2 linked regions of the Homo sapiens genome follow. The protein of the gene in region 2 purifies or fractionates together with the protein of the main gene of each other region. This does not show direct contact. Each region holds a gene or a part of one and is shown on either strand. Other genes may lie near its edges.

Evidence for each region. Proteins that work in one complex are often made in the same cells at the same time.
Region 1: the proteins of LAP3 (region 2) and HADH fractionate together in Homo sapiens (co-fractionation; one large-scale study listed by BioGRID). This does not show direct contact.

What each region holds. Positions count from the first base shown.
Region 1 is NC_000004.12:108,024,389-108,027,888, reverse strand, and holds part of HADH (hydroxyacyl-coenzyme A dehydrogenase, mitochondrial isoform 2 precursor), read right to left. Parts: intron 202-3,500; coding exon 129-201; intron 1-128. UniProt on the Homo sapiens protein: Mitochondrial fatty acid beta-oxidation enzyme that catalyzes the third step of the beta-oxidation cycle for medium and short-chain 3-hydroxy fatty acyl-CoAs (C4 to C10).
Region 2 is NC_000004.12:17,583,698-17,587,197, reverse strand, and holds part of LAP3 (cytosol aminopeptidase), read right to left. Parts: intron 2,227-3,500; coding exon 2,062-2,226; intron 957-2,061; exon of another isoform or gene 1-956. UniProt on the Homo sapiens protein: Cytosolic metallopeptidase that catalyzes the removal of unsubstituted N-terminal hydrophobic amino acids from various peptides.

The sequences.
Region 1 (3,500 bases), about 90 Mb from region 2:
CAAAGCTAGAAAACAGACACTGCTTCCTCCATTGTGCACGGCCCGACCCCTCCTAGAGACACTGAGAATTCCAGACAGTGGCGCCAGGAGCTGAGGTCTGCTGCTCCTGGCCTGGGTCAGAAGGATACCTCGTTCATACAGCCTGATTGCTTCCATGAGGTATGGAACCAGGAGGCGGTTCACAATAAACCCAGGAGTGTCCTGTTTTGGGAGACAGAAAAACAAAAAACTAGTAAATTTTCATTAAATGGTATCTTTTGTGAAGTCACCAAATTGCCCCTTCTTACCCTGGATCATGTTTGCCCCCATTTATCAAGCTGTACATTTTCAAAATTTGCAGCATGGCCTTATTTCTATCTCATATGACAATTTATCCAACAATCATAGTACTTAAAAAAACATTCAAACCCAGATGCCCCACTGCACAGATCCTGACATAAAGACAGATCAAGGCACAGGTGTGACCTGGAAGAGCATGGCTTTGGGAGAGACAGATTTGGGTTCAATCTTGAATACTCTCTTGGTCCTTCTGTCACTCTGAATCTGTTTCATCATCTGTGAACTGGGGGTGACAGTTTGTCTCAAAGTTGTGAAGATAAATCAGAAAACACATAAAATGCTGTACACACAGCCCTACACCCATCCCTTTATTCCTCCTCTTTCCTCCCAATTCCCTTTCAAGAATCGACAAAACGTCACACTCCACCTTGAATGGTCCTCAAAGGAGGACTGCTTTCCAGGCTCCTTGGAGCCACTCCTCGGCTACTCAGCAACTTCTCAGGTTCCAGCGCACACTGCAGTGGAGCTGACTTGAGGGCACGTGCTCCGACAAAGGAGCAGAGCCTCTGACAGAGAGCTGGCCTTTCACGGCACACCCCCTAAGACCTCTGCATCCTGCGGTGACCCCTGTGCCACATATGCCTTTCATCCATTTCCCTTCTCAGTAACTAACAATAATCATCTCTCTGGAGGACAGGTGTGGGATTTGGATTTTATCTACTGATCTCTTCCGGGGACTTGTAGAGAAAAGCAGGTGATTTTTTTGTTGAAGCTGATTTCCACTAGGCAAATGGTGCCTCCTCTTTTGTCAAAAGGCTGTGATCTTCCTGAGGGCAGAAATCCTCACCCTGGCCTGAACTCTGCATTCTGTTTCTAGCACACACCAGGTACTTCCTTAATGTCTGAATTACAGATGACCAGGCACTCCTCACAGAGCTAACCTGACTGCATGCGGGGAAACTGGACAGTAACACAAAGGATGTGAACCTCCTTTAACCCTAGGCAAACTGAAACCAAGCCCTAACCCCATCTATTGCCACATGAGCACAAAGATGCACAAACAAGTTTTATCAGCTTAATTAAGATTATGGAACAATACAGATTTTATAATTGAGGCAAAAATACTCTTTTCAACTTCAAAAGGTTCACTATAGACTCAAGATAGGGTACCTGAGAACATGAAGCTCCAACAGTTAATATCTTCTACAGAAAAAGCTCATAGAGCTCAATAAGGAAAAAGTGCCAAGACTCATTAAATATTTAAACTCACTGGCCAGTCGCAGTGGCTCACACCTGTAATCCCAGCACTTTGGGAGGCCAAGGCGGGAGGATCATGAGGTCAGGAGTTCAAGACCAGCCTGGCCAACACAGTGAAACCCTGTCTCTACTAAAAATACAAAATTAGCCGGGTGTGGTGGCACGCGCCTGTGGTCCCAGCTACTCAGAAGGCTGAGGCAGGAGAATCGCTTGAACCCGGGAGATGGAGGTTGCAGTGAGCTGAGATTGCGCCACTGCAATCCAACCTGGGAGACACTGCAAGACTCCATCTCGAAAAATAAAAAAATAAATAAATAAACTCACTAGTAATCAAAAAAATACGCATTTTTGCCAACAAGATTATCAAAGGTTTTTCCCCCACTGTAATAATATTTGATGCTATTGAGAATGCAGAGAGACAGATGCTATCAGTATATTGGTGGAATGTGAAAAGACACAGTCTTTTTTTTCTCTTGGCAGGGTCTTGCTCTGTTGCCCAGGCTGGAGTGCAGTGGCATGATCTCAGCTCACTGCAGCCTCCACATCCTGGGCTCAAGCGACCCTCCCACCTCAGCCTCCCAAGTAGCTGGGACCACAGGTGCACACCACCATGCCCAGCTATTTTTCTGTAGAGAGGGTTTTTGCCATGTTGCCTAGGCTGGTCTCGAACTCCTGGGCTCAAGTGATCCACCAGCCTTGGCCTCCCGAAGTGCTGGGATTATAGGCGTGAGGCACCGTGCCTAGCAGGAGACACAATCTTTAAATAAAGTAATTTTATTTTATGTAATCAAATTCATATTTTTCAGATTATTTATTAAACACATTTTATTTACTGTACTTACTGTGTGCCAGGTACTGTTCTAAATACTTTAAAAATATTAATTTATTCATTCCTCATAATAACCCTGTGACAGAGGTACTATAATTATCCTTATGTGAAGCATGAGGACACTGAGGCACAGCGAGGTTAAGTAGCTTGCCTAAGGTTACACAGCTAATAAGTGCCGGCACCAGGATTTAAACCCAGTTGGGCTAGTTCATACCCTTAACCTATATACCACAATCCCCTCATGAAGTCTCACTAGGAAGGCACATTCCAGGCACATTAATGCCCCTCTTCTATGTCAAGTATTGGTAAAGTACAATACTGTAGCCCACAGCCTGTTTTTGTAAGTCAAGTTTTACTGGAGCACAGCCACACTCATATTGCATATACTGTCTATGGCTGTTTTCATGCTACAACAATAGAACTGACTACTTGCAACAGAGACTGTATGGCTGAAAATATTCACTATCTGGTCCTTTACAGAAGTTTGCTGACCCTTGTCCTATGTAGTTGCCATATATTGTCCAGATGCCTCATAAAGAGCTTCAATAACTGACCCAGAAAGACCCTCTGAAAGCCCTTAGAATACCACACAGAGAGAGTTCTGGAATGACCTAACAAGATAATTTAATGAGAACAAAGAGTTCCCATCTCTGCAGCTGCCGTGGCCACTCTGATGGAAGACTGAATCATTACTTTGTAGATTAATTATTATGCTGCTGAAGATAATCATTAGCTTTTCCCTGTACTTCTGTTTCCATATCTTTTTGTCTTGCACAGATGTTCTTTTCAATACCATTACTACTTTCTTCCACTAACAAAGCATAACTGCGTAAGAAAGTACAATCATAACATCCAATTATTAATATGAGTTTAGAAATCTAGATGACTTAAAACTACAGAACCAAACAAACAAAAAATGGGTGTTAAAGCATGAGACTCCCTAACAACACTTTACCCATGGACGGGGAGGAGCAGGACACACAAGCCTGCTCTCTTTGGCTGCTGGAGTCCACCTCAACAGATGGCTTCTTCAGGTGATTCATGAACAACATGATTTTTCATGGGTTAGTACAGTACTGTAAGTTCAAACTCGAGAATATTTTAGAAAGCAAAAGTTTGCTATGAGAACTATAAT
Region 2 (3,500 bases):
CAGCTTCCTCACCTGAACTGTCCTGCCCCACTCTCTTGTACTGTAACTTCTAAGCAACCTGCAGGACTCTCCTTAGGCTCCAGTCTTTTTTTGAGACACAGTGTCTCTCTGTCGCCCAGGCTGGAGTGCAGCGGTGCGATCTCAGCTCACTGCAACCTCCATCTCCCAGATTCAAGCAATTCTTGTGCCTCAGCTTCCCGAGTAGCTGGGATCACAGGCACGCACCACCACTCCCAGCTAAGTTTTGTACTTTTAGTAGAGATGGTGTTTCGCCATGTTGGCCAGGCTGGTCTTGAATTCCTGACCTCAAGTGATCCACCTGCCTCAGCCTCCCAAAGTGCTGGGATTACAGTCATGAGCCACCATGCCTGGCCTAGACTCCATATTCTTATTAAAATTTTTATTTTAGAGATGGGTCTTGCTATGTTCCCTAGGCTGGCCTTGAACTTCTGGACTTGACAGACCCTCCTGCCTGCCTCTTGAGTAGCTGCAAATAGAGGTGTGCACAATCGCACCAGCAGCTTCATATTCTTTGGCAGTCCCCCTCATCCCTCTGATCCTGCAGTACCCTCTGCAAATGCCATTTACCTCCCTATTCCTTCTTACAACATCCTCACTTTCTGCAAGGACAAGGACCACTTCATGCATCTTTGTATGATAAATTCCAGGCACACCAGAGGGGCTGTCATAACCACTATTTGGTGACCAAAAAGATACTTTTATAGAACCTAAACATTGCTATAGATTAAACATATACTAACCATTCCAGAAATTTTATCAAGCTCTAAGTACTGTGCTTTCTACAGACTATTAATTTTTCTTCACTCTGTCTAAACCATAGATGCTTTCCTGAAAAACACGAACTCTAATCACAATTAAGTACTAAAGAATTCTTTTAAATGGAAGTACCCTTGGGAAACAACTTTGACAATAAAGAATTCTTTAGGTCAAACAAATACCTGTTCATTTGTTTTAATTATAAATTCCCAAATGCTCAGAGTTGGTTTGCTTAAAGGGCTGGAGATCCCAAGAGAGCGACGGAACTGGACGAGCAGGCTTTCAGCTCCAACAGCCTCCCACTGACACAGCATTCAGGGACACCTGGGAGCACCAATGCTGGAGTCTAGGCTAAGGGAATCTATGAGGCAGAAATTCTCATCCCATGTCTAGTTAGGCATGCTGTGTTCTTCATTTGTGTCCAAAAGTGATGATAGGAATAATTCACCAAAATAAGCCATGTGAAGTTCCTCAAAAAGTTAAACAGAACTACGATTTGATTCAGCAATTCAACTCCTAGGCATATACCAAAAAGAAATAAAAGGTAAAAACAACCAAAGTGTCCATCCCCTGCTGGCTTTAGGGAATGGGAAACAGGGAGTAACTGCTAATGGGTATAGGGTTTCCTTTGGGGGTTATGAAAATGTTCTAAAATTGATTGTGGTCATGGTAGCACAACTCTGTGAATATTCTAAATACCAGGCCGCATGGCGGGGTCATGGCTGTAATCTCAGCACTTTAGGAGGAAAAGGTGAGATTGCTTCAGCCCAGGAGTGTAAGACCAGCCTGGGCAACACAGCGGGAGACCCATCTCTACAAAAAATTAAGAAATTAGCTGGGCATGGTGGCACACACCTGTAATCCCAGCTATTGAGGAGGCTAGGGTGGGAGGCCTGAGCCCAGGAAATTGAGCCCATGTTCATGCCTCTGCCCTCCAGCCTGGGCAACAGAGCAAAACCTTGTCTCAAAAAAAAAAAAAAAAAAATCACTGAATTGCACACTTTGCATTGGTGAATTCTATGGCATGTTAATTGTGTCTGAATAACACAGTTATGAAATATACACATACATAGTATATCATGGCACTCTCTCTCTCAAAGGCAAGGAAAGATAGAAAGAACCTCAAACTCAGCTCTATTCCAGCTCCCCATGTGGACCCAAGTGGGTCATCTCAAATCTCTGGTCTCAAGTTATTCCTCTAAAAAGTGAGGGAGCTGGATTTTAGGATCTCAAGGGCTCCTTCTGGCTGTAACATCTCGAGTCTGTGACACAATCCTGAATTACCTGATATGGACCTCGGTTTTACTACTAGCACTTTTGAGATTCTTCTCAATAATTTCAGCAAATCTGGTTGGCGTCATCTCATTGGCTGGCGTCTCCATCAATTGGCGTGCCAAGTTCTGCCCAGAAGCAAACAGGACTCCTTTCTGCCAGGCCTCCTGATCCCCACTGGCAGAAGAAAGATAAAGTGACTGTCAAACAACCTCTCAAGAACGCTGACTGCCTGCCAACTAAGAGACACTCTTACCTTACAGAAAACAAAAGAGGAAGACTACAAATCAAAAACAATTGGCACACAGGACCTGGATTCATTTTTTGTGATCTGACCCAGGGCAGCAGATGGTATGGTGCAGAAAGCTAGAAAACATGGCCACACAAAGCAGAACCAGAGGGTATCCGGTCAGGCACTTCCCTTCAGAATCCTCATCTACATGAAAAAGGGCCTGTGCTGTGGGGTCTTTGAAGCTCTAAATCTACCACATAAATGAAGAGAAGAGGCTTCCACAGAAAAGCCCGTTTTGTTCTCCTTCACTGTATCAGGAATGCTGCAGCCCCAAGTGCTAACTGCAAAGCAAGCGTATGGCAATGGCTCTAACGTGGCAACTGAAGACCTTTTTGCTTTCTTTTACCTAAGTCGGGGCTCCAAATTCCAACCCATTCGTAAGCAGGACCAGCTTTAGAAGAGAAAGGATACAGGCACGTGTTTCACAACCCTGGCTCTTCCTATGGCAGCACAGAGGTGGGTGAGTAACAGTAGATGGCCTAGAAGGCCTGCCACATGCCCCCTACTTGATGTGCTCTTTTGGATGATGATACAAACCCCATGAAATCGGTATTACAACTCTAGTAAACAAATGCAGAAAATGAAGCACAGAGATTTCAGCCACGTAACCAGCAAGGTCCCCCAACGAGTAAGTGGTGAAGCCAGGACTTAAGCCCATGCTGACTGGCTGCAGAGCCCGCACTCTCCCCCACTCCCCACAGCTGCCAACCCTTGGCCAGTGCCAGGGCCCCCACTGTGCTTGGCACCATCTGCTGAAGGTCTCATCTTATTTATTCCTGATGGCAGGGACCCCACTAGCCCACAAGGGCAAGGACCAAGCATCCAGAGGATCTCTTCATCTGTGTGGTGCTTGCATTTAGCACAAGGCCAGCAGGTGCCAGGTAAATGAATGAACATTATCTGGGTTGAAACCTGTGGGATATGTCTGTCATGTCATTCCTCCCTCTCAGGTAAGAGCTACCTGGTTATGGCTTCCTTGTAATCAGAGCAGGGAGGGGTCAGGGAGTCATGGGGGAATCAGACATATGCCGAGAGCCAGGAGCAGAGCTTGGGCTTAATTTTGACCACATTATTAAAATGGCTGAGGCAATGGGGAGGTCACAGCCAAGCCACGCAGCTGTGGGTGGCGCTGAAAAGCAGGCAGCTCATATCCCAAAAG